Regions from separate parts of the Homo sapiens genome. Here regions 2 and 3 are each linked to region 1. Evidence: fine-mapped expression QTL. Tissue or cell type: monocytes. Region 1 holds a variant in brackets; each other region holds the start of a gene. All regions are shown on one strand. Distances are between the middles of the regions.

Region 1 (8,182 bases):
AGACTAGTTGTGTTCAGGTCTCTGCTTCCAGCTTGCTCCTGGGGTCCCACTATTTCTTGCCATTAGGTTTTTGCGATCCAGTCCTTACAATCAGGTGTCCTGCTTTGCTTAACTTAATTTTAGTAAGATTCTTACTTATAACCAAAAGAATATAACTAATGTAGTCTGTTAAAGACACTAAAATCCTGTTTGCCACATTTATGGTAAAATTTTTAGTATAATGATTTGTTATATAAACAAAAACATGGCAATATCATTCTTAGCCTATAGGCTTTTTAAGTGAAAAAGAAAACTATAATTTCTCCTCCTTCTCCACCATCTTCTTCCCATCTTCCTCTTTCTTCTTTTCTGAATCTTCTTCCTTTTTTTTGGTGCTCTTGGAGCCTAGAACAATGATGGGCATTAATAGATGCTCAATTAATGTTTATTGACCTAAACTGAACATAAATAAATAGGAAAATAAGAAAGAAATTCCTCCACAATCTCACCACTACATGAATAAAACTCTTTTCAGTCATCCCTGTACTTACCATTGTCCACATTCTTCCGTCATTTTTATTTTTCTGCAATCCCAGGATAGACCCAGTTTTGATTCCTACCTTTGTTCAATAACACTGTATTATAAATACATTTCCATGATGGTCACAGCCTTTAAAATTGCAATTATTATTGTTGCTTCAATAACAGGAAAAGATAAATGTAGAAAGTATTTTTTATTGAATATTTCATAAGGCCAAACAGAAATGGAAAGTGCTTTCATTATAGTCAACAAGCCAAATCTCTGGCTTTTCTCTTGCTTCATTGCCTTTCCCTGAGAAACCACATCCTGCACAAATCCAACTCTGCTCTTACTCCACGCCTGTTCCCGTGCTGCTGAACCAGGCTGGAAGAAAAACACAGCCACACATGCCTGTCTCACTTTCACTTCCTGACCACTCACCCCAAGAAGGCTCATAATGCTGCGTAGCAATCATTCTATATTTCTCTAATCTATTTACTCTCCCTTCTCTTAGGCGATTCTTTGCATTCTTTAACCTCCAAACTCTGACGCTGCCTCCTCCAGCCTCTCTCTCAGGGGATAACTACATATTCTTTCACTGAGAAATGAGAGACAATGAAAAGAGACTTCACAAGGCCCCGGTGCCACCTCTCATCTACCTCCATTTGTTCTGATATACTCTACTTTCCCTCTAGTTATTAAGAATGAATTGAACATGCTGCCCTTTCAGGCCTGTCCTTTCTCGGCACTGATTCTATCCTCTCACCAGCTCAAGGATTTTCCTCCAGCAATTCCCTACCATTTCCACTATCCCCATCTCTTGAAACAGTATTCTTTTCCTCTTTACTTGACTCTTCTCATTAGACTACAAATGTGCTGTTACCACTTGCCTACACACACACACATGCGCATGCACACACACACACACACACACACACCTCAAAAAACTTCACCATCTATCTATTGCTCCATTTCTTGTCTTCCTTGTCAAGCAAAATTCTGTGAGTCTAGTGGTTCTCAAAGTGTGGTATAAGTACCAGCAGCATTAGCATCATCTGGGAGCTTGTAAGAAATACATATTCTTGGGCCTTACTCCAAATTTACTGAATCAAAAATTCTGGGTGTGGGCCCAGCAATCTGTGCTTTAACAAGCCTGCAGGTGATTGTGATCTATACTGAATGTTGGGAACCACTGTTTACGTATAGTTGTTGACTCCAATTTCTCTTCTCTCATTCTCTTTGAAACACACTCCAGCCAAGCTTTAGGTTCCCCTGTTTCACAGAAATTCCTCTGTCAAGGTCAAGAATGATCTTCATTGGTGGGACCAGGTTTCTCATTGTCAGAGAGTAAAGTTACAGATGAGCAAGACAGGAAGGCTAGAATGAACTCTGTGGTACTGGGTTAAGGTCAGAGATGTCAGTGTGGACTTATGTTTAGCTGAATATATAATTTCTGTCTTAGCTAGATGTCTCCCTTGGCCCCAGCCTTGTGTACCCAACCGTCTACTTGAAATCTCAATTCAGATGTCAACACGCAACTAAAATTTAACCTGACTAAAACAAAGCTACTGGTATCTCCTTCACAGGCTTGCTCTTCCTGCAGTCGTCACTATTTTCATGAATGGCAATTGCATCCTTTTGGTTGCTCAAGTCAAAAACCTTGGAAGTCTATCTTAGTCTGTTTTGTGTTGCTAAAACAGAATACCAGAGACTCCGTAATTTATAAAGAAAAGATGCTAATTTGGCTTATGACTCTGGTGGCTGGGTGGTTCAAGATTGGGCAGCTGCCTCTGGTGAAGGCCTCTTGTTGCTTCTACTCATGGTGGAAAGTAGAAGGGGAGTGAAGAGGAGTGAAGTTTGCAAAGAGATCACATTGGGAGAGGGGAAGCAAGAGAAACCAAGGAAGCCAGACTCTTTTTAAGAACCTTTTTTTGCAGGAATGAATCCATTCCTGAGAGAGCAAGTGCTCACCTCCATGGGAGAACATTAATCTGTCCATGAAGGAATCCCCCCCAGCCTCAATGACTCAAAGACCTCCCACTAGTCCATATGACTTACATTGCCACATTGGGAATCAAATTTCAGCATGAGTTTGTGCAGGGACAGACTAAATCCAAAACATAGCAGAGTCATTTTTGACTTTTCTTTTACCTTATGTGCAGTCTTTTCAGTCCTACTTTCAAAATATACTCCGAACCCAGTCACTCCTCACCACCTCCTTTGCTACCCAGGTCCAAACCACCATCATTTCTTGCCTAGATTACGGAAGCCGATTCCTAACTGGTCTCCCTGCTTCTGCCCTTGCCTCTCTTCATGTGTTCTCAACACAGCAGCAAGTGTTCCTGTCAGTTTGTAAGTCAGATCATGCCAAAATCTGCTCAGAATTCTTTATTGAGTTCTCAATACTCTCAGAGTTAAAGTCAAATCCTTTCCATTGCTAACTGGTCCCTGTGTGATCTATTCACTTTGCAATGCTGTCTGACTTGAAATCCTGCTACTTTCGGTCTCCAGTCCAGCTACTAAGACCTCATGGCTGTTCTTCAACAATCCAAGCATATGACTCCCTGAGGATCTTTGTACTCATTGCATTATTTGCTGAGAACACTAAGTGTGTGATAATTTGTTATGCAACAGTAGAAAACCAATGCAGATTAAATCACATGAAATTGCCAGTAGTTCAAAAGTAATATATGACCTCCAAGATGGCAATTTCTTGTGATTCTATGTAATGAATTGCAACAGTCATCTTTACTCCCAACACCCCCTTTTCCTTTCCCTGCTTATTTCCCCTCAGATAATTGGATCACCATCTAGTTTACTATTTTTCTTATGTATTCTGGTTATAAGTTGTTTCTTCCCACAGCAAGGTAATCAGATACCTCTATCTGCTTTGTTCATGCTGTTGTCCCAGTGCCTAGAGGAGTGCCTGACATACAGTAGATACTTAGTAAATGTTTGTCAAATGTTGCATGAGTGAATGAAGGTAAGCGGAGGAGATGGGAATTTGAGCAACATGAACCACTTTGTTGGACAAAAACTCAAACTGAAAATCTGATGGGAACTTGAAAAAGCCAGGAGCTCTGTATTCATCCTTAAACTTTGGAGTTTCCAGAATCCGACATTCTGGAGAATTTCAGTTTCTGTGCTGAAATGCCTTCAATTCAACACAAAACAACTAAAATAGAAAAATACAAAGTTCTCAGAGTAGGAATTCTGGGAAATACAATTGAAGCTGAGGTTTGGGTGGGGACACAGCCAAACCATGTCAAGGAGTATGTAGAAATATGCTGAAGTATATATTAAATTAAGTGGCGAAATCAAAATAATACCCATATTAAAATTGTAGCCGTTTTGAAAACACGTATCAAGTACTACTTGGCTTTCAAAAGAGACAAATCTTATCATCTGCAACAGCATGGATGAAACTGGAAGATATTATGCCTGGCCTCAGAAGGCCAGGTCAAAAAGTCTAGCAGCTAAATTTAGAGAGCTAGAAA[T/C]GGAAACAGCAGCAATCAAATGGCTACTTTCCTTCCTCAATTTGAGGTCAATGGCAGGATGGAGGAAGGAAACTGCAGCTTCTGAGAACAGGCTGAGCACTGGGTGGCAAGTCCCCGTTTCTGTGGGCAGCATGCTCTCAGCCTCAGCTCCTGGGCCAGGCAGACGCCTGTGGGTGGGCTGGGACACTTTAGATTGGGTTGGGGAGAGTCTATTTATCAAAAATGAGATCCATCTGCAAGAGGAGGGATCTCTTCCAATGTTATTGAAGTTTTCCAGTCCATCTAAGGTAAATTTTCTTCCTTAAGTAGATGGTATGCATTTTTAAAACATGGCATTAAGTATCTACATGTTTTCTTTAGCAGAGTATCGTACCTGAGCACAGATATCTTCTTAGTCTACCTTCAGAAAGTCTCTGGAGCATTCAGGCTAGAATTTAATATCCTTCGTGCCCATATTCTCCTTTTTTAAATAGCTTATTATCTTTGCAAAGAAAAGTTTATCTAGACTGCTGCAGGAAATTGAAGGGTTAATCCTATCCCTTACTCATATTGGCTATTGAAATCATTTCCCAATATTGTGTCCAATTATTACCTCTATGTATGTATGTATGTATGTATGTATGTATGTATGTATCTATCTATCTATCTATCTATCTATCTATCTATCTATCTTTTCTAACAAGTTGTAGTTATTCACATTTATGGAGTATAATGTGATATTTTGATATAGATCAATGTGGCATGATCTATTTAAGCTAATTAACTTATCCATCATCTGACTTACCTATCATTTTTTACACTGAGACATCTGAAATTTACTCTTACTTATTATTAAATATATAGTACATTATTTTGACTATAGTAATCTTAATTGCAGTAAACCTAGTCCTCCTGTCTGTCTGAAACTTTATACCTTTTGATCAGTAATTCTCCATTCCCTTCTTCTCCACCCCACAGCGTCTGGTGACCATTGTTCTACTCTCTAATTCTTTGAGTTCACCTTCTTTTAGATTCCACACATGAGTAAGATCAGGCAGTATTTGTCTTTCTGTGCCTGGCATATTTCACTCAGCATAATATCTTCCAGATTCATCCATGTTGTTGCAAATGACAAGATTTCTCTCTTTTTAAAGGCAAAGTGGTACTTGATATGTGTTTTAAAAATATCTACAATTTTAATATAGATATTATTTTGATCTCCCCAATTAATTTAATACATAATTTGTCATATTTCTACATACTCCTTGAAATGGTTTGTCTGTGTCCCCACCTAAATCTCTACTTGAATTGTATCTCCCAGAATTCCCACGTGTTGTGGGAGAGACCCAGGGGGAGGTAATTGAATCCTGGGTGCCAATCTTTCCCCTGCTGTTCTCGTGATAGTGAATAAGTCTCATGAGATCTGGTGGGTTTATCAGGGGTTTCTGCTTTTGCTTCATCCCCATTTTCACTTGCTGCTGCCATGTAAGAAATGCCTTTCATCTCCTACCATGATTCTGAGGCCTCCCTAGCCATGTGGAACTGTAAGTCCAATTAAATCTCTTATTCTTCTCAGTCTCAGATATGTCTTTATCAGCAGCGTGAATTTGGACTAATACAGTGAATTGGTACCAGTAGAGTGGGGCATTACTGAAAAGATACCTGAAAATGTGGAAGTGACTTTGGAACTGGGTAACAGGCAGAGGCTGAAACAGTTTGGAGGGCTCAGAAGAAGACAGGAAAATGTGGGAAAGTTTGGAACCTCCTAGAGATTTGTTGAATGGCTTTGACAAAAATGCTGATAGTGATATGAACAATAAGGTCCAGGCTGAGGTGGTCTCATATAGAGATGAGGAACTTGTTGGGAATTGGAGCAAAAGTGACTCTTGTTATGTTTTAGCAAAGAGGCTGGCTGCATTTTGCCCCTGCCCTAGAGATTTTGGGACTTTGATCTTGAGAGAGATGATTTAGGGTATCTGGCAGAAGAAATTTCTAAGCAACAAAGCATTCAAAAGGTGACTTGGGTGCTGTTAAAAGCATACCATTTTAAAAGAGAAACAGAGCATAAAAGTTGGAAAATTTGTAGCCCGATGATGCCGTAGAAAAGAAAAACCCATTTTTTGAGGAGAAATTCAAACCAGTTGCAGAAATTTGCATAAGTAGCAAGCAGCCTAATGTTAATCCCCAAGACCATGGGGAAAATGTCTTTGGGCCATGTCAGAGAACTTCACGGCAGTCCCTCCCAGCACAGGCCCAGAGGCCTAGGAGGAAAAAGTGGTTTTGTAGGCCAGGCCCAGAGTCCCAGCCTAGGGACTTGGTGCAGCCTAGGGACTTGGTGCCCTGTGTCCCAGCTGCTCCAGCTGTGGCTGAAAGGGGCCAACATTTAGCTCTGACCGTGGCTTCAGAGGGTGGAAGCCCCAAGCCTTGGCAGCTTCCACGTGGTGTTGAGCCTGTGGGTGCACAGAAGTCAGGAACTGAGGTTTGGGAACCTCTGCCTAGATTTCAGAAGATGTATGGAAATGTCTGGATGCCCAGGCAAAAGTTTGCTGCAGGGGCAGGGCCCTCATGGAGAACCTCTGCTAGGGCAGTGTGGAAGGGGAATGTGGGGTTGGAGCCCTCACACAGAGTCCCTACTGGGGCACTGCCTAGTGGAACTGTGAAAAGAGGGCCACCGTCCTCCAGACCCCAGAATGGTAGATCCACCAACAGCTTGCACTGTGTGCCTGGAAAAGCCTCAGACACTCAATGCCAGCCCGTGAGAGCAGCCGGGTGGGAGGCTGTACCCTGCAAAGCCACAGGGGCGGAGCTGCCCAAGACCATGGGAACCCACTTCTTGCATCAGTGTGACCTGTATTTGAGACCTGGAGTCAAAGGAGATCATTTCGGAGCTTTAAAATTTGACCACCCCACTGGATTTTGGACTTGCTTGGGCCCTGTAGCCCTTTTGTTTTGGCCAATTTCTCTTATTTGGAATGGCTGTATTTACCCAATACTGTACCCCCATTGTATCTAGGAAGTAACTATGTTGCTTTTGATTTTACAGGCTCATAGGTGGAAGGGTCTTACTTTGTCTCAGATGAGACTTTGGACTATGGACTTCTGGGTTAATGCTGAAATGAGTTAAGACTTTGGGGGACTGTTGGGAAGGCATGACTGGTTTTGAAATATGAGGACATGAGATTTGCAGGGGCCAGGGGTGGAATGATATGGTGTGGCTGTGTCCCCACTCAAATCTCAACTTGAATTTTATCTCCCAGAATTCCCACATGTTGTGGGAGGGACCCAGGAGAAGGTAATTGAACCATGGGCATTGGTCTTTCCCATGCTATTCTCCTGAGAGTGGGGAAGTCTCACAAGATCTGATGGTTTTATCAGGGGTTTCTGCTTTTGTTTCTTCCTCATTTTCTCTTGCTGCCACCATGTAAGAAGGGCCTTTCACCTCCTGCCATGATTCTGAGGCCTCCCCAGCCATGTGGAACTATAAGACCAATTAAACTTCTTTTTCTTCTCAGTCTCGGGTATGTCTCTATCAGCAGCATGAAAACAGATTAATACACTCCGCATAATAATGTCAGTAACTGTGCAAGATTCCCCAAGATTAACATATGGCCATTTCAATTTTTTTGGCCTTTTTATTGTAAATCATACTTTAGCACCCAACTTAATAGACTCTCCTCCTTTCCCAGATGGGAGTATGCAGAGCCAGCTCTAAGTGTTAACAGAATAACTAGTGGCTTATTTGATGCAAAAGGAGACCAATTTCCTAACTCCTTTCTCAAATTTCTCCACTGGCCTGCCGTATTGCCTAAAATTCCCGTAATTGGAAAATTCAGGTTAAGACTTAAACTTCAGCTGAATCCATATTATTATTTTTATTTGGAAGGACAACACATAAGTAATTATCATCCATTAATTCTCTATTACTAATCAGTGTATTTGATTGACTTCTCAGTCACCAGGCAGACATTGAAGAAATGGGACTGGGACAGTCAGATTTTGACAGGGCGCTACGGGCAGTATCTTTGCAGGTGTAAATGTGTCTCAGGAGAGGGAACCCTGGGTGACTGGGTCCATCTGAGTAGCCCAAGATTCATGGCTAACAATGAGGCTCTAAGAAGAAGAGTCTTGTTCTGAGGGTGGATGCCCCACCCTTGAAATTGGCTTCCTTATGTTTCAGCTCTGGATAAACAACTTCCTCCAGATCCCG
Region 2 (8,182 bases), 31 kb after region 1:
TTATTCTTTTGCCAGTACCATACTGCCTTGATCACTTTGGTTTTATATTAAGTCTTAAAGTCAGGTAATATCAGTCATCTGAGTTTGTTTTTCTTCAGTATTGTGTTAGCTACTCTGGGTTTTTGCCTTTCCATATAAACTTTAAAAAAAGTTTGCTGATATCCACAAAGTAACTAGCTCAGGTTTTGACTTGGGTTGCACTTAACCTATAGATCAATTTGGGAAGACCTGAAATCTTAACAGTATTGAGTCTTCCTATCCATGAACATGGAATAGCTCTCCATTTATTTAGTTCTTTGATTTCTTTCACCAGAGTCTTGTAGTTTTCCTCATAAAGATCTTGTGCATATTTTGTTAGATTTATACCTAAATATTTCTTTTTAAGTTATCAATTTTAATGGCTGTAAAAGTGCTTAAAATGAAAAAATTCAAGATGCAATATTTACAACCATCAATCTTTTGTGGGCAGGCCACCTGTTATCTATTTGTGGCTTACCAAAGTGTTATAACCCATTGGTTAGGCATATTTTTTGGTAAAGAATATCAGTTACTATCACTGAGCGTGAGACACTAATTAATCTCACCCATTGCCACTTCTTTAGTAAGAACTGGACTTGCAGCCACTGCTATGGCTGACATTCTAATGCCTCAAGTGGAGCCACCTTTCCTGTACTCAAATGTCCTCTGTTTGTTGCCTGTCATCCCAGCTACTTGGGAGGCTCAAGCAGGAGGATTGACTGGGGCCAGAAGTTCGAGACCAGCCTGAGCAACATAGTGGGACCCAATCGGTAAAAAATAATAATAATAATAAAAAATAAAAAAATGTTTCTGGTTGTCTTTGGGGGACAGGTTCAGATTTGGGAATATTTGTAGGGGGATTTTAGCCTGGCCTTTGTTCACCTGGTGTAGAAATCTTGTTTGTCCTATAGATCAAATTGAGTCCTAGTTGGATGCTTGGCCACCAGCAAAATCCCTATGAGTCACACCATTCTGAAGTCTACTTGGGTACCACTGCTTATGATTGTACCAAGCCCTCCCTGGCACTGAGGGTTAAGTCATGCACCACTATTTGTCTTCTGCCAGCCCAGGCTCTCATCCTTCCCATTTAAGTCAGGGAGCTCCTTTTGACTGCAGTGTCTTTCACAACCATCTCTTGCTACAAAGAACAGCCACTTTGGTGCTTTTCAAAGATGGCAGTCCTTCCTTTGCCAATGATTCTTTGAAAATCTTGGTGGATGCCCCCTCAGGGGACACAGTTAAAGAGAGGTAAGCTGGCCACATGTGGAAATACACTGCAATATTTCCATCTCCTTGATTCTTTGGATCTTTTCCTGTACATGTACCAGGGAATTTCCTTTTTCTCATCTTCATTTAGCTGAGTCCAGAAGTCAGTTAGTCAATTTAGATAGTACATTGAAACCAGAGTCATTGGGAAGTGAATTCAAATGGACAGATTCAGGTTTATTCACACATATACTCTTCAATGTAAATTAGCAGAATCTTGCAATTCTTTCTCTTCTTGGGGTTGACTTTATAGTTGGTCTCCTAGGGTGTGACTGAATCTGGTTCAAGTATTAAGAGTGAGAGTAGTCAGAGATGGTGGGAGAGGGGTGGGAGGAGATCGGCTTCCCTTTCCAAGGTAACTGCCTTAAGTGAGTTCCGAAGAGGATCTTCAAACAAAGCAGGAACAGCCTCGTTACATAAGGAAGAGGGCATGCTTCTGCTGCCAAGGGAGTTTGGGGGCTTGAGTGACTAGGAATCATTCAAGTTTTCTTTTATAGTCCTATTCTTATTCCCAGATTCCCACTCTTTCCTGCTGATAATTATAAAATCTTGTGAGGCCGATAATTCAATTGACTTTGTAATTTGGCGATTTGTAGATGAAATTGTGAATTTGGTTTTTCAGTTTTGGCCTTGTGGCTCAATTAACAAGATATTCTTTGAGCTCTGTTGTTTGTAAAAATACAGTTGTTTAAAAGTCATAAGCTGATAATTTAGGACTTAGTGCATCACTACTTTTCTTTCAGTGGTCCAGTTTTAAACTCATCCCTTGAGTTCATTCTTTGAGTTCTTCCTAATCTTCATATTATTATTATTATTGTTGACAATGGCCAGTTGGTTTCCCAGAGCCTTGTCTTCATTGGGTAGTTCAATCCAGGTGACCATACTTGGTAATTTACCTAGCTGTCATGCCAAGTGCTTCCAGAGCCTGTATTTTCATACTAGTTGAATCTCAGCCTTTATTCCTAATCAGGCCAGACAACCAATCTCAGATTCTTCTCATTTCTTCAAAATTCTGTTTCTTACAGTCCCACATTGGGTTATCTTTATTCTGTCTTTTTCACTACTGTCCTTGTTGGTCTTATTTTGCTTCCTTGGAATTTGGGGTAACAATTTTTGGGTATTGATATGACTCTTTTGGAGCCTAACGGTCACTATAATAGGATGGACAAGTGTGTGTGTGGTCTTAAAAGAAAAGCATGGACTGTTTGGCTGGTGACTTTTCTTTGATCTCTGGGCTGTCTGCTCTTTTGGCTAGCAGAGATGATCCAGTTTTCAACTTGGGGCAGGTCCCATCCCTGCCACCTCATATGTGCATATGGGGATTTACAGATTACAGCTGTAAGATGTCCTCCACTGACCCGGTGTCATACCAGCTTCCCAGCCACCTGTGGGATGAACAGGTGTTCTCTCCTTTGAAATGAGAAAAGAAATGGAGAGACTTTTCAAAGATCCCCAGGATTAGCCAGTAGCTGGGCCAAGAATGAAATCCACATCTTCCCATACCCTCAATACTGACCTCTCCATCAGGATCTGCCCTAACATTTGAAGGGCCCAGCTCAAGAGCCTACATGAATGCCCCATACTATCATCTAAATATTCATAAGCAATAGTCAGCTATTGAGTGCTACATAAAACATTCTCTATCCTCCTATCTTGACAAATTGTTGCAATTTGGAATTTCCAGGAGCAGATACTGAGACTGAGTTTGTCCTGTGTGGTATTTATTAGTGATCAACAGGGAGAGGAGGCAGGAGCAGGCAGAGAGAGAAGTCCAAATGCAATGCGGACTCCCCCAAACCTTAGCCAACCCCACTAGGTGTCCTAGAGAATATATGGCCCACCAGACTGTCCAGGGCAGGTAAAATTTGTGTGCCACTCTTCCTCGACCCCCAGGACAGGGCATATCTTTGGATGAGGGGACTCTATGCAGGCACAAACCTTGAAAAAGCTGACAGCTGGTCAACACCTCCTCTTCTAACAAATGTTCCTTCCTAATGACCTGTTCTGCTCCGGCAAGAGCAACAGGGTGAGAGGACTTCCATCTCTCCCAGCTCCTGGACATTCTAGTGCTCACATTCAAGCTCCATACCCCTGACTCAACAGCTGCTCCTGGCCACTCTCGGGCCTACGGTACCTGACACAGTGGCTCTAGCCACCTTGGGGACAACAGAGAGGCAGGATACCTCCTACCTTCAACACCCTGGAGGCGCGTGGGGAATTCCAGAGTCCTCAATACCCAGAGATTGGACTAAAACGGGATGGGGCACATCCGCTTTGCCATTAGACCTCTTAATTCCTGAGCAACCGGGAACTGGAGGAGGTCTGTAAAGCAGGGGAGTAGGATAGGAACCTATCCCTCTTGCTCGGGTCAAAGGTATGCTATCAAAGATCACACTAAGATGTTGGGAGATTTAAAGGAGGATTTGCACATGGAAGGCTCTTTTTTGGAGAAAGAGACTGAGTCCTAGCTAGCATTAAATAAAACAATGGCTTAAACAATCTCCATGAGTACCAGAGATTTTTACTATTAGCGATATTCCTGGTGTAGCCGTGTCAGGGCTGTCACTCTCTCTGTCACTCGCCCTGGGCCCAGCAATCCTTTCCCGAGGCGGAATCCCCCTGGCGGTGTGGGTCAGGATCGCTCTCCGTCCCCTACCCGCGCCAGGTCCCTGGAGCTGAGCAGAGCAGGGCGCTGTCGAGCGCGTTGGGGAGCCGGGGCCGGGACGAGCACAACCGGGAGCCCGAGCGACAGCGGCCAGGGGAGGGAGGAGGCGGTGAGGCTGAGGAAGGCAGTCGGGCCCAGCTTGACGCAGCGGCGGCTGCGACTGAGCAGGCCACCACCAGGGCACCCGGGCCAGCCGCGCCAGCCATCCCTCCGCCTCCTCCTTCAGCTGCTCGGCGCGCGTGGGAGTGAGTGCGTCGCGAGCCCGCCGGGGGTCTCAGGCTCTGGGCGTCCTCGGCGAGCGAGCCCGGGCAGAGGGAGGCGCACGAGCGCGCGCGACAGAAGGAGGCGGGGAAAGGAGGGGGCGAGGCGGAGGCGAGCGAACAGAGGGAGGGACCCGCCCGCCGCGCCCCGGCCGCTGGGCATGTGTGTCCGCAGGCGCCCGACGCTGCCGATGTCCCGGGGCTGAGCCGCGCCCAGGTGTCCCGGACAGTGCGTGCGAGCGTGTGTGTCCGCGCAGGCGAGCACCGCGCCGGCCCTGAGCCTCCCGCTCGCTCCCCACGGCCGCGGTGCATGTTCGCCTCCTGCCACTGTGTGCCGAGAGGCAGGAGGACCATGAAAATGATCCACTTTCGGAGCTCCAGCGTCAAATCGCTCAGCCAGGAGATGAGATGCACCATCCGGCTGCTGGACGACTCGGAGATCTCCTGCCACATCCAGGTGCGCGTGGAACCGGGCGAGGGCGCGGGGCACACGCCGGGAGCAGGGCGGGGGGCCTTTGCGGTGGGCATGCGAGAACAAGGAACCCACTCCCGGAGGGGATTGGGGGACTGCTAGAAAGCCAGATTTCGATTCCTCAGGCCTCTGAGGGTGGGGGGCCTTATCCTGGCATGGAGGGGCATGGTGCCCTGCAAGCGCCAGGCACGCGTTATCCGCGCCCAGTCTCCTTCCCCTCGCGTGCACCCTGCGCGCGCGTCTCACTGCGCCCGGGCTAGGGGCGCGGGGCAGCTGCCTCCGGAGGGACTCTGGCCCCTCTGGGCCCTACTCCGCCAGGAGATGGGAGCTCCGAGGGCTGAGAGGGGCACCTGCATGTCGCCCACTGGTATTTCCTCCCTTCTTCCACGTGGAGAAGGCATGCATCAGCTGGGTTCACTCATTTCTGTCTCCCGCGCCCAGGCTCCGGAGACGCCCTCAGTCCCGGAACCTGCTTTCCGCTCCGTGTCGGTCCCCCTCACCCTCCGCCGGTGGTCTTTAGTTCTCCGCGTGGGGCGGTGGCGAAGTTTCCCCAGAGTGAGAGAGGCCGGGCTGCCCTGGGCGCCAGCCTTGAGGGATGGAGCGCGCGCTGCGCCGGACTGGAGCTACCTCGAAAGGAATGTGTGAAGTCTGAGTGTTTCGGAGAAAGGAAAAGGGATTGTGAGGCCAGCAAGTGGGGAGCCCTGCAGGAACCTGGGTCCTGGGTAAAAGAGCCCCGTGGAATCTTGGTGGACATTCACTGTCGCCCAAGTTGGAGGAGAAGGCGAGTTGTTTGGGAGAAGGCAGCTTTGCTGGCAGCCCTGTCCTCGGGTAGTAAGTGCCTCTGGGCTGTCAGGAGAGCTAGTGTGAGGTGCAAAGGTGTGTGTGTGCATGTGGTTGCGCGTGCGTGTGCATATTTGCTGTGGGTGAATATGTAGGCAGGTGGGAGCCCCTCTTCCAGGACCCCAAAGATGCCCCACTCGGTGCGCACACAATCAGGAAAGGTTGTGTCAGGGCTCAGCACAATTAACTTCTGACTTCTAAATCTATTTAACTGTTTATCTCTGGGATTTCCTTTCTCACCTACCCTAGTCGAGTCTTGAGGCTCTGGGACTGAGCTTTTTTTTTTTTTTTTTTTTTTTAGTGTAATACAGGGCACACCACCCATGTCAGTGGGAGGTGAGTGGGGCAGCATCTCCCAGAGTAGGAATCAGCCTCTAGGCTGTGCAAACCATGAAGGAATGAAAGGACTTTCCCTGTTTTATTTTTATTTAATTTTTGTTAGTGGGAGTGTGTGACATGTTGGGGGCAGTTGCAATTAATTTGTAACCTGACAGCCGGACAAGTGTCAAGGTAGGAATGTGATGCCCCATGATCTCCCAGGAAAGTAGGCTCCCATTGAATTTTCTGGGGGAGCTTGAATTTCATTCTGAGCTAAGCAGCACTGCTAAACTTAATAATAAAAGGATTAGCAGGATAGGCAGTGTTTCTACTGCCACAAGGGTTGCACAGAAGCATCTGGCATGTACTAATAGTCTTGTGATCCAGAGAGTGTGGACTGTGCACTTTGCTTTAAGTCCTAAAGTGGGTGTACAGGTCCTTTAACCCATAATGAATGTGTAGATGATGGAGGGGCCGTCAGGGAGAGAGGCTGTTGAGTTCTCCTCTGTCTCTCAGCCCTCTTCTGCCCTGTACCACTTGGTGTTGACATTTTTTTCCCCTCCCTCAGGATGAAGTCTTCCTTAGAATAATAAATATTCCCCAAAGGACATGTATTTGTTGTCTTGTGTTTTGAGAAACAATAAATTGTAGCCAGTCTAACAACAGTTTGAAAAACTCCAGTGCTTATGACCCAACTAGTGCCAAAGAGGTTAAAATGTTATGTTTCAAAATGTTGGCTTGGGCACTGATTTTTAAAAAATTATGATGTTTCATTTTGTGATTTGTCTTTTTCTGCCCTTTCTGCCCCCAAATTACAATTATTATTTAACCAATTAAAATAAATTAAAATATTTTATTTGGATAACTTTAGACCTCACACTTTCCTAGAGTACTCCAGACCAGGAATTGAAATTGCCCTTCCGGGTATCAGGTAACAAAGACTTCCCATTTGCTTAGAGTGAGAACAAAAGGATTAAAAAACAATGCGAAACAAAACCATTTGGAATTACTGGCACTTGTTCTGGGTGAATCCATCTGTGTTTGCTTCCTTCCTTCTATAGAACTACAAAGTTAAAGGATTGTATATATTGTCACAGAATGTCACCCTCTCTCCATAGCCCACATCTGCCTGTCTGCGTTAGGAGCTCTCATCCCTGGTGTCTGCCTGGCTCTGGAGCAGGGGTGTCCAATTTTCTGGCTTCCCTGGGCCACATTGGAAGAAGAAGAATTGTCTTGGGCCACACATAAAATACACTAACGCTAACGATAGCTGATGAGCTAAAAAAAAAAAAATCACAAAAAGTCTCATAATGTTTTAAGAAAGTTTATGAATTTCTGTTGGGCTGCATCCAAAGCTGTCCTGGGCCATGGGTTGGATGAGCTTGATCTAGAGGCTCTGTAGGAGGAGCAGGAGCTCTTGGACATGTGTTAGTTGTTCACTCCTGTTCACTACAGGAGTGCTGCCTATGGAGCCCCAAAATAAGTAGGGGAAACTCAAGCCACACATCCTTGGGAGCTCATTAGTCTGTGTTCTCTAGTAGGTAAGCATTCCAGATTCAAAGAAAAATGAGCCACTCAAACAGGTTTCTCTAGCAAGGTGCTGGAGAGTGGCCACACATGGTAGATGCAAGAGATGATAGAAACCTTCAGGACTATTGCTTGAGACAATGTGAATAGCTCTAGGTGCCATTTCTTGAGCATCTCTCATGAGCCAGCCTTTTCCACTCATTATGTCTGATCTCTACCACCAACCTTTGAGTAGGTATTATTCCCTTCTTTTGGGTAAGAAAACTGAGAAGCTAATAACTTAAGTGACTTGTTCAAGGCCACATCTCTAAAAAGAGAATGAGCAGCTGGAATTCAAATCCAGAATTGTCTGGATCCAAAGCTTATGTATGTCTTTGACATATTACCCCATAGTTAAAATAGCTGAAGTTTCAATGAAATTTCCAGACATGGAAAGAGGTAAATCCAAGGTAGGGGAATTTAAACCAGTGACTGAAGGCCAGTTGGGATTCATGATCTGAATGGACAAAGCGACCCTATTTGCCAGTTTGCAAACTTAATGTGTCCTGGGTCTTCCAGGGAGGCTGGCATCTCAGAGCTGATTGGAATCCCACAATCCAAATGTCACTGGGGGCCATTTCCACCCCCCAGAAACATGGTATTTGCCTTTAAAGAAACTATATGCATAAATGCCTTGTTAGGTTTGATACACTGTGTCCTTATATTTCAGACAGTAGTAGCCCCAAATTATGCCTATGCATCAAAAGATGAACCAAGCCAGAAACTAAGGGAGAATTGCCTAGTTGTGCTCTGATTAGAGGGTGTGATGGTGAAAGG
Region 3 (8,182 bases), 54 kb before region 1:
TCACTGTGTAATCCTAAAGCAGTGATGCCCGTGACCGTGGAGTCTGGAGACTGGCCTTAGCTGATCCCCACGAATGTCAATGAAGAAATAATTAGTTAACACTATTTCTTTCTCTAAAGGCAATATATAAGATCTCATTAAACCCAAGTTTTTTCTTCAGTAATCAGTTTTTGGTCCCTGTTGTGTAATTTTTTTTTTTTTTTTTTTTTTTTTGTGGTGGGGATGTTGAATTCATAGTGATAAAATTCTGCTGAAAATATTGAATGGAGGGGTCTGATGGAGGATTTAATCTCCAGCAGCACCCATGTAAAGTTCAGGACACTCATAAAAGCATAAAAACATTTTTGGAGTTTAAAAGAGACACACTCGTAAAATAAAGGACATGGGTCAATATCTCATGAATCACCGGCACTTGTTAAGACTGGGGGTTAAATGTTCTCTGTGTAGAGCATTTGGTAACTATCTGTTCATACTCTACCAGGCAGCATGTGCTAGTGAAAGGGGCTCGGGACTCAGTACTGGAGATGGGGCCACAGTTGCCTACTGCCACTAAATGACTGAGTGCTCCCAGCCAAGTCACCTGTTCCTTTAAACCTCAGTTTTCTCACCTGCAAAACAAGGGATCTGAGCCACATGATGTATCCATCCACCTACATTTCATTTCTTTATTGAGCACCTACCAGTTCCCAGGATGTAACGGTAAGCTCACTGACACATGGCCTCAGCCTTCCTAAACAGTCTAGTACATAGGGTAGGTAGGGGTGGAGGCCAGCAGACAATGACCCATAAAGTGCTTTCTCGCTTTCAATGTTTAAAGTGTTGCCCAAATGCCAATTATTTAAGCACTATCTTCCTAATTTTTACCTATCCCCATACTATTTTATCATGCCCTCTTAAATTTTACATATCACCTCAACATTTTGATGTTTTTATTTAATTGCTTCACTTTTAAAAATTAAATAAGTGTGTTAAAGAAGGAAACTTTCTTTCATTCCCTTGCACAAGAAGCTATCATCACTTGCCTTGAATAGAAGGTACCTGAAAAGCTGTATATAATGAAAACAGAACAATGTGATTAAATTCTAGCTGGATACTGTTGCCTAACAAAGGTCCTCTTTCTTTCACTAAAAAGCTATCAGAGAGGTGTTAGACACAGTTGTACCAAACTGAGATCTGCTCCTGGATGTAACCAAAGGTTGCGAGAGCAGTGAAACCTTTCCCATTAGTTCATTCTATTGAAGGCTGCGCAGGGAGACATGCAGCCTACGGATGAGTAGACCATCCCGGCCAAACTCCATGGCTGGTGAAGCCAGAAGTGTGCATAGCAGAAATCACACTTAAGACCAAGTTAGGTTGAGCCCTTGGCTCACGCCTATAATCCCAGCACTTTGGGAGGCTGAGGCAGGCGGATCACTTGAGGCCAGGAGTTCGGGACTAGCTCGGCCAACATGGCAAAACCCCGTCTCAACTAAAAATACAAAACTTAGCTGGGTGTGGTGGTGCACGCCTGTAACCCCAGTTACTCCGGAGGCTGAGGCATGACAATCGCTTGAACTCAGGAGGCAGAGGTTGCAGTGAGCCGAGATCACGCCACTGTACTCCAGCCTGGGCGACAGAGTGAGAGTCTGTCTCAAAACAAAAAACAAAAAACAAAAAAACAAGTTAGATTAGCCATGAATGAACATGCCAGCCAGCACTCATAATTTGAAAGCAGAGGTAAAGAGATGTGGGTGTAGACTGTCAGGAAGAAGATGGGAAAAGAAAAACCACTGTCTGTCTAAACCAGAGAACACCTGGACTCTTGAATATGCACCAAAGACCCTGGCAGAAATAAGGCACAGTGCTGGGCCCAAAAATACTGGTCAGACCCAGGATTACAAATCAAGATTTGGGGTCCATATGTCTCCCAGTGGGTTGGTCTAAATCAGGGGCAAGGGACTTAAAAAGACAACACAGACCAATGGGGGAGAAGGAAGGGATGCAGAATCAATGAGAAAGATATTCAAAAGGTCTGAGCTTGTTTCATCAGCAAAGAGAAGGAAACCTGGAAGGAGATGTTAAGGGTGGCTTCATTAAGATTGTGAAAATATAAAGAAAATTAACTCTGCCACCCACTCAGATGCCTGCCGTCTTCCATCCATCCATCCATTCATTAAGTCAACAAGTATTTAGTATCTACGAAATGCCAGGAACTGTTCTAGACACATGTATCAGTAAATAAAAAGGAAAATAATCCTTTACATTCAGGTGGGGGAAGACAGTAACAAACTTAGTCCTTGAGGTCACTGTGTTTTAACAGTGTTCTAAATGGAGTCTTTCTGTTTTGAGACTATTGTTCTCTTCAGCCATTAGGCTGTGATAAATATTTTTCTAAATGCTATGGAGTATAATTAAAAAATCCTGTAGGGCTCCAATAGGGGTTCACAAAGTCACTAAAGAACTTGATGTTGCTACATCCAATGATGAATATAATCAAGTCCCAGTCTTTTTATTACTCAGCTAGTCAATAACATTGGACACATCTCCCTGACCCTGCGCCACTGAAAGTCCCCAGGGTTCAGTTCTTGGCCAGCTTCTTTATCTACATGCACTCCTTTGGTGATCTCAACACCTTAGATCTTTAAGTACACCCACACAACAGTGATTCCCACAGTTAGATCTAAAGTCCCTCTCCTCTGAACTTCAGACTTGGACATCCAACCACCATCCACTGGATGACTAATTGGCTCGTCCAAGTCACCATATCCCACACTGAGCTTCTGAGGTTGTCTTCCAAATCTGCTCTATCTACTGCTTCCCCAAATCAGTTTGTGGCGACTCCCTCCTTCCAATTACTCAGGCCTAAAATCTTGAATCATCCTTGACTTCTCTCTTGTCTTCTTACACCCAACATCCAGTCCACAAACACATCTTTCTGACTCTACCTTCAAAATATTGCCAGCATATGACCACATTCTCTTTACCTGCATTGTTTCTGACTTCATCTCCCATCATGCTTCCCCTCACTCAGCCACAATGGGTTCCTTCCTGCTCCTTAAAGAAGCCAAGCCTTAGCTGGGCGCGGTGGCTCACGCCTGTAATCCCTGCACTTTGGGAGGCTGAGACGCATGGATCACCTGAGGTCAGGAGTTTGAGACCAGCCTCGCCAACATGATGAAACCCCGTCTCTACTAAAAATACAAAAAATTAGCTGTGCATGGTGGTGGGCGCCTATAATCCCAGCTACTTAGGAGCCTGAGGCAGGAGAATTGCTTGAACCCGGGAGGAGGAGGTTGCATTGAGCCAAGATTGCACCACTGCACTCCAGCCTGGGCAACAGGAGTGAAGCTCCGCCTCAAACAAAACAAAACAAAAAAAAAACAAAAGAAGCTAAGCCTCAGAACCATTGCACCTGCCATTCCCTCTGCCTGTCCTGCCCTTTCCTCAGCTATCCACATGGCAGGTTCCTCAAGTCTTGCAGGTCTTTGCTGAAACGCCACTCCCCCAGAGGAGACATCCCTGACCACTCTGCCTGGCACTCTTTGTTCCCCTTACTCCAGAGCATCTATCACCAACTCACACACTACATATATTCATTTACTCTGTCTCCCATACCAGAATGTAAATCCTTTGAGGGCAGGGATTTTATCTGTCCTGTTCGCTATATGACAATGACATAGAGTAAGGATTGAGCTCAATAATTACTGAGTACATGAATATCACAAGCTATACATCATAGGGATTAGGCCTCCCTCATCTGATTCAAGACTCAGAGGGGGTACATGAACTGCCCAGGCTCACACAGCCAGACAGCAACAGAACCAAGACCTAGGGCTCTTCACTCCTGTTACATCACACCATGGCAATGATTTTACATTCTCCAACTGATTCAAATCATATGGCAGCTAGGGATTTGGGGGCTCCATGTTTTATTTCAATTGCAGTTCAAGATTTCTTTTTATCTTTGTGGCTGAGAACCCTACAATAATTTTGGAAAGCAAAACCCATCTACCTGGAGTAAATCTTTAATATACACCTGACTACACAGGCCACAACATGGGCCGTTCCTGATTCAGAAAATTCTAGAAGGGTCCTATAGGCCCTTGAAGGTTATGATGTTTTAGCTGATCAAGTTCTGTCCTTTGCTGCCTGTGGTCGAATGGTACAGCAGCTGTCTTTTCTGATAAAGGGCACAGTTAGACTTTGGTTTAAACAGGAAGCCAAATGTTAACTCCTCAGTCTCCAGGTTAGCACACTGGGCTACCTCTGTGGTTTCCACAATTCTCTTCTTTCTTTCCAAACCCTCAGGAGCCACCCTCCATATTAACGCTGTCTCCTTCCAGGTTAAGCTGATGAAAGGAAGGGGAAAACGATTCACTTTCCAAAATTGAATCGGAGAAGTCCAGGGCCTCATAGGAGGAGGCCGCTGTGTGTCCAGATGGCCAAAGGTCTGTGAGAGCCTGGGCCGTGGTTTGCGTCCTCTCGCTAGAGGCCGTGCGCCCTCCCGCCTGGCCCCGACAAGGCGCCCCGAAACCTAGCCCCGCGCCGCTCGCTAGGCCTCCACCTGCGCGGCCCCGCAGCCGCCTGTTCAGGAGCGGCTTCCTCCCTGAGCCTGCGGTCGCCGCAGCCTCCCCGTCTTAGAGCGGGAACCCGGAGCTCGGATGCGGTCCCAGGATGGGCGCCCCGCGAGCAGGCTGGAGGGCGGGGAGAGGGCGCGGCAGCCGCGGGCCTCGGTTTCTTCATCTGCAAAGGGAAGGGTGGGGGGTCCCCAAGACCCCAGTCCACCGGCAGGGACGGCGACGCGTCCGGCCTCCGCCGCGCCCGCAACACTTGTCCCGGGCGCCCCCCGCCCTCTCCCGGACCTACTTCCCCGAGCCGCTCACGCCCATCACCAGCAGCGCGCCCGGCGCCGCCATAACCCAAGCTCGGCTCCTTCCCGTCGCCTTCCGGGCCCCGCCGGCCCCGGCCTACCCGGCGCTCGAGGGGCGGAGCCGCTCTCGCCCCGGCCGGGGCAGTGAGGGCCGTGCCCCTCTGCGCCCTCCCCGTTTTCCCGCGCCCCTTTTCCATGCTTTCCTCCTCCCTTTCCCAACCTCCCGGCCTCTCTCTCCTGCCCCTTCTTTTCCTCTCCCCTCCCCTCCCTCTTTCCTCTTCCCGGAAGTGAAGCGCGCGCCCGGCCTGGCACTCGCGTCTCCCTGGGCTGGAGGGAGCCGCCCAAAGCCCCGCCACCTGTCGTTCTACTGCCCCGGCCCCTCTTGGTTCCAGAGGATCCTCACCCTGGCAGGCCGGATCCTCATCCACCCATGGAAAGCATTCATTCATTCATTTATAAAAATGTTCTTGTAAAAAGAATAAACAGAAAATAAGACTCATAATTTCCCACACCAGGCAGCAATAAGCAGCACTTCCTAAAACGACTCCCCTTTCCCCGCGCCCCGTCGTAGATAGATGGGTATGAGTATTTTGTAAAACTGGGATCAGGCCGTACACAGCGTTTTGTAATCTGGCCTTTTGTCACAATAATAAATGGCGGCCATCTTTTGGTGTCAAACTTAGGGTTGAGTGTTGACCGTAGCAGCATATGTCTTGGCTGTATGGCTCTGCTGTTAAATCCAGCACTGGTTGGGGCTTTAAGAGGAAGGAGCACCACTTTAAAGTGTCCATTTGCTTTAAAACAATGTTAATTATGTGTCGTTTGAACTATTTGATTAAAAGCACTTCTTTTTTTTTTTGAGACGGAGTCTCGCTCTGTCGCCCAGGTGGGACTGCGGACTGCAGTGGCGCAATCTCGGCTCACTGCAAGCTCCGCTTCCCGGGTTCACGCCATTCTCCTGCCTCAGCCTCCCGAGTAGCTGGGACTACAGGCGCCCGCCACCGCGCCCGGCTAATTTTTTTTGTATTTTTAGTAGAGACGGGGTTTCACCTTGTTAGCCAGGATGGTCTCGATCTCCTGACCTCATGATCCACCCGCCTCGGCCTCCCAAAGTGATTAAAAGCACTTCTAACCGCATTTGGCATCACCTCCTTTGGTCTTTTGTTAACCAAGGTAGGTATTACTCTGTGTCCTAGAAAACAATAAAAGTGACATAAAAGCATTTATCTAATGAATAGTTCAATTACCCCTGCACTGCCTTTGTTTTTCATATACTTAGCCCGAGTAGGTGAGATTTCAATCTGGATGGGGGCTGTACAGGTGAAGAAATTGAGGCTTGGAGAGAGGTCTTACAATTCAGTTATGGTCAATACACATTTCTTGAACATCTACCATGTGCTGGTTAATATCATATTAATATTCATTTAAAAGATTACCCTCTAGGCATTCTCAAGCTTGATAAGAGGAATAGATGTGTATGCAAATACTCTTAACTCGTGCCCTGCTTCGCTAGCTCAGTATGAAAAAAAAAAGCTCATATTTCTTTCAATGTTCAAATCAGAATGATTAGCAGAAAATCTGATTCTTCTCCTTGGATTTCTTTCCCCAGACATGTCCAAGGATCTTAAACTTGCTGTGCTGCTCAGGGTGGTGGCAGGAAACAGCATGCTCAAATTGGGGCAGGTGAACAGGATTTAACAAAGGGACTATTAGCACAGGTGTGGGTAGGGTCAGAAAAAGCAACTAGGGGCAGAGTCCACATCTGAGTAACCGAGAAGTGTTTTCACTCTTAAATAGAAAGGGGCTGATGAGAGGGAGCCTTTATATGGGAAGGGAAGAGAATGGAAGGAGAGAGACAGAGAGAATAGACCATATAGAAAGAAGTGTCTGACAGGACTGTAGCCTTAGGAAGAGAGAGATAGACATTCCTTGTTGACCCAGCAGAAAAATAATCAGGAGAATAAATAACCTCCCCTCCCCTCCTCTTGCCCTGTGATCTCCTGCTCGTGGCCAAACCCCACCAGCCAAACCCAATTGGAAGGTGGAGAGCTAGGGAGTCCGGCGGTGCCCATGCATGCCAATTTCCTGGGCTCAGAGCAGGGAAGAGAAGGGTGGAGATTGTATCTGGAGGTACCAATGAAAGATACCCAGCATGCCAGTGTCAGTGAAACTCTGTGCCTGCTTCCAGGACAGCGGAACTTCAAAGGTGCCCCTAAGAGCTGAATTCCACGTTTTTTTTTTTGCTTTCCAAAGAGTGCCACCTGCTGGTCCTGGTTGTCTCGGTGCTTCCCAGCTGTTACTATGGGGCAACCCAGATGCTGAATATTGGTCTGGTTTTAGGTCCTGTCTACTGCAAGAACTGTTGTACTGAGGCACATGGTACTCTGGAAACCCCGAGTCCCTAGCGAGGCACAGCTTCTTGCATGCGTTTCTATAGTCACTCAAGTCCAGATCACCCCCAGATTCTGGACAGCATGTACTGTAAGTCTCAAACAGAAATGGCAGCGCTCCTGTATGAAGCTGACCATTTCCACAGCGGTTAAACAGAGCTCAGTGACGAGCACCTTAATGCGCACAGGCACTTCCCTGGGAGGCAAATCATCCACAAAGATGGCTGGGTTGGGACAGATATTCACATACCAGGAGCCTCACAGCTCTGATATGTCTAATTGAGAAGAGTTTGGATCTTCCCCCTTTCCCTTCCAGGAGAGTCCTTGATCCCAGTTTAATTCTGAGAGTTCAAATAGATGCATGAAAGAGCTTAAAAGTCAAATCCCAGGTCTTAGCCAAGTAGCTTGTTACACTTTCTTCTGGAAGTAATGGCTGTATACTTGCTTCACATCTTCATAATTAAAAGTGGCCACTCTAAAGATCCAGAACAAAGTTTGCAGAAAGGCAAAATGGTATCTGTTATCTCAATAGATGTAAAACAAAAGCACTTCACAGAATTCAACTTCCCTTTGTGATCAAAATACTCAACAAACCAGGAATACAAAATTCCCAACTAGATAAAAAGTATCTGTGAAACCCCAGGTAACATCATACTTAATGGTGAAAAGACTGAATGTTTCTCCCTATGATCAGGAACAAGGCAAGAATGTCTTCTCTCACCGCTTCTATTCTACATTCTGTTAGAGGTTCTAGCCAGGGCAATTGGATAAGAAAAAGAAATAAAAGGCATCCAGATTGGAAAAGAATATGTAAAACTATCTCTATTTCCAGATCACATGATCTTGTTTATAGAAAACCTAAGGAATCCACAATAAACCTACTAGAGTTAATAAGTGAGATCAGGAAAGTGACAGGTTACAAGATCAGTGTATAAAATCAATT

Which allele goes with the higher level. Alleles are on the strand shown, and positions count from the first base shown. SD is a standard deviation of normalised expression in the study named. Not every link is listed here.
For the expression in monocytes of the gene that starts at base 4,924 in region 3, C is the low allele of the variant in region 1 and T is the other (moderate effect, 0.65 SD a copy in BLUEPRINT).

What was found. PIP is the estimated chance that this variant, and not a neighbour inherited with it, causes the effect.
Region 2: FRMD3 starts here. The variant in region 1 is fine-mapped to the expression of FRMD3 in monocytes (TOPMed, PIP above 0.99). The same link has a PIP of 0.9 or more in blood mononuclear cells and spleen.
Region 3: it holds the start of IDNK, and the variant in region 1 is fine-mapped to the expression of IDNK in monocytes (TOPMed, PIP above 0.99).

The regions. Positions count from the first base shown.
Region 1 is chr9:83,565,404-83,573,585 of GRCh38, reverse strand. It overlaps a transcript of FRMD3 not described here. Among named protein-coding and RNA genes, the nearest start is that of FRMD3, 31 kb to the right of the region's middle. The variant T/C (reference allele first, on the strand shown) is at 3,997.
Region 2 is chr9:83,534,569-83,542,750 of GRCh38, reverse strand. It overlaps FRMD3 (FERM domain containing 3), which reads left to right and starts at 4,350. Exons shown (of 14, transcript NM_174938.6): 1 at 4,350-4,666. The coding sequence starts at 4,520. RefSeq lists a silencer at 6,103-6,397.
Region 3 is chr9:83,619,885-83,628,066 of GRCh38, reverse strand. IDNK (IDNK gluconokinase) reads right to left here and starts at 4,924. Exons shown (of 5, transcript NM_001001551.4): 1 at 4,846-4,924. The coding sequence starts at 4,895. RefSeq lists enhancers at 4,320-4,369, 4,390-4,519 and a silencer at 4,700-5,229.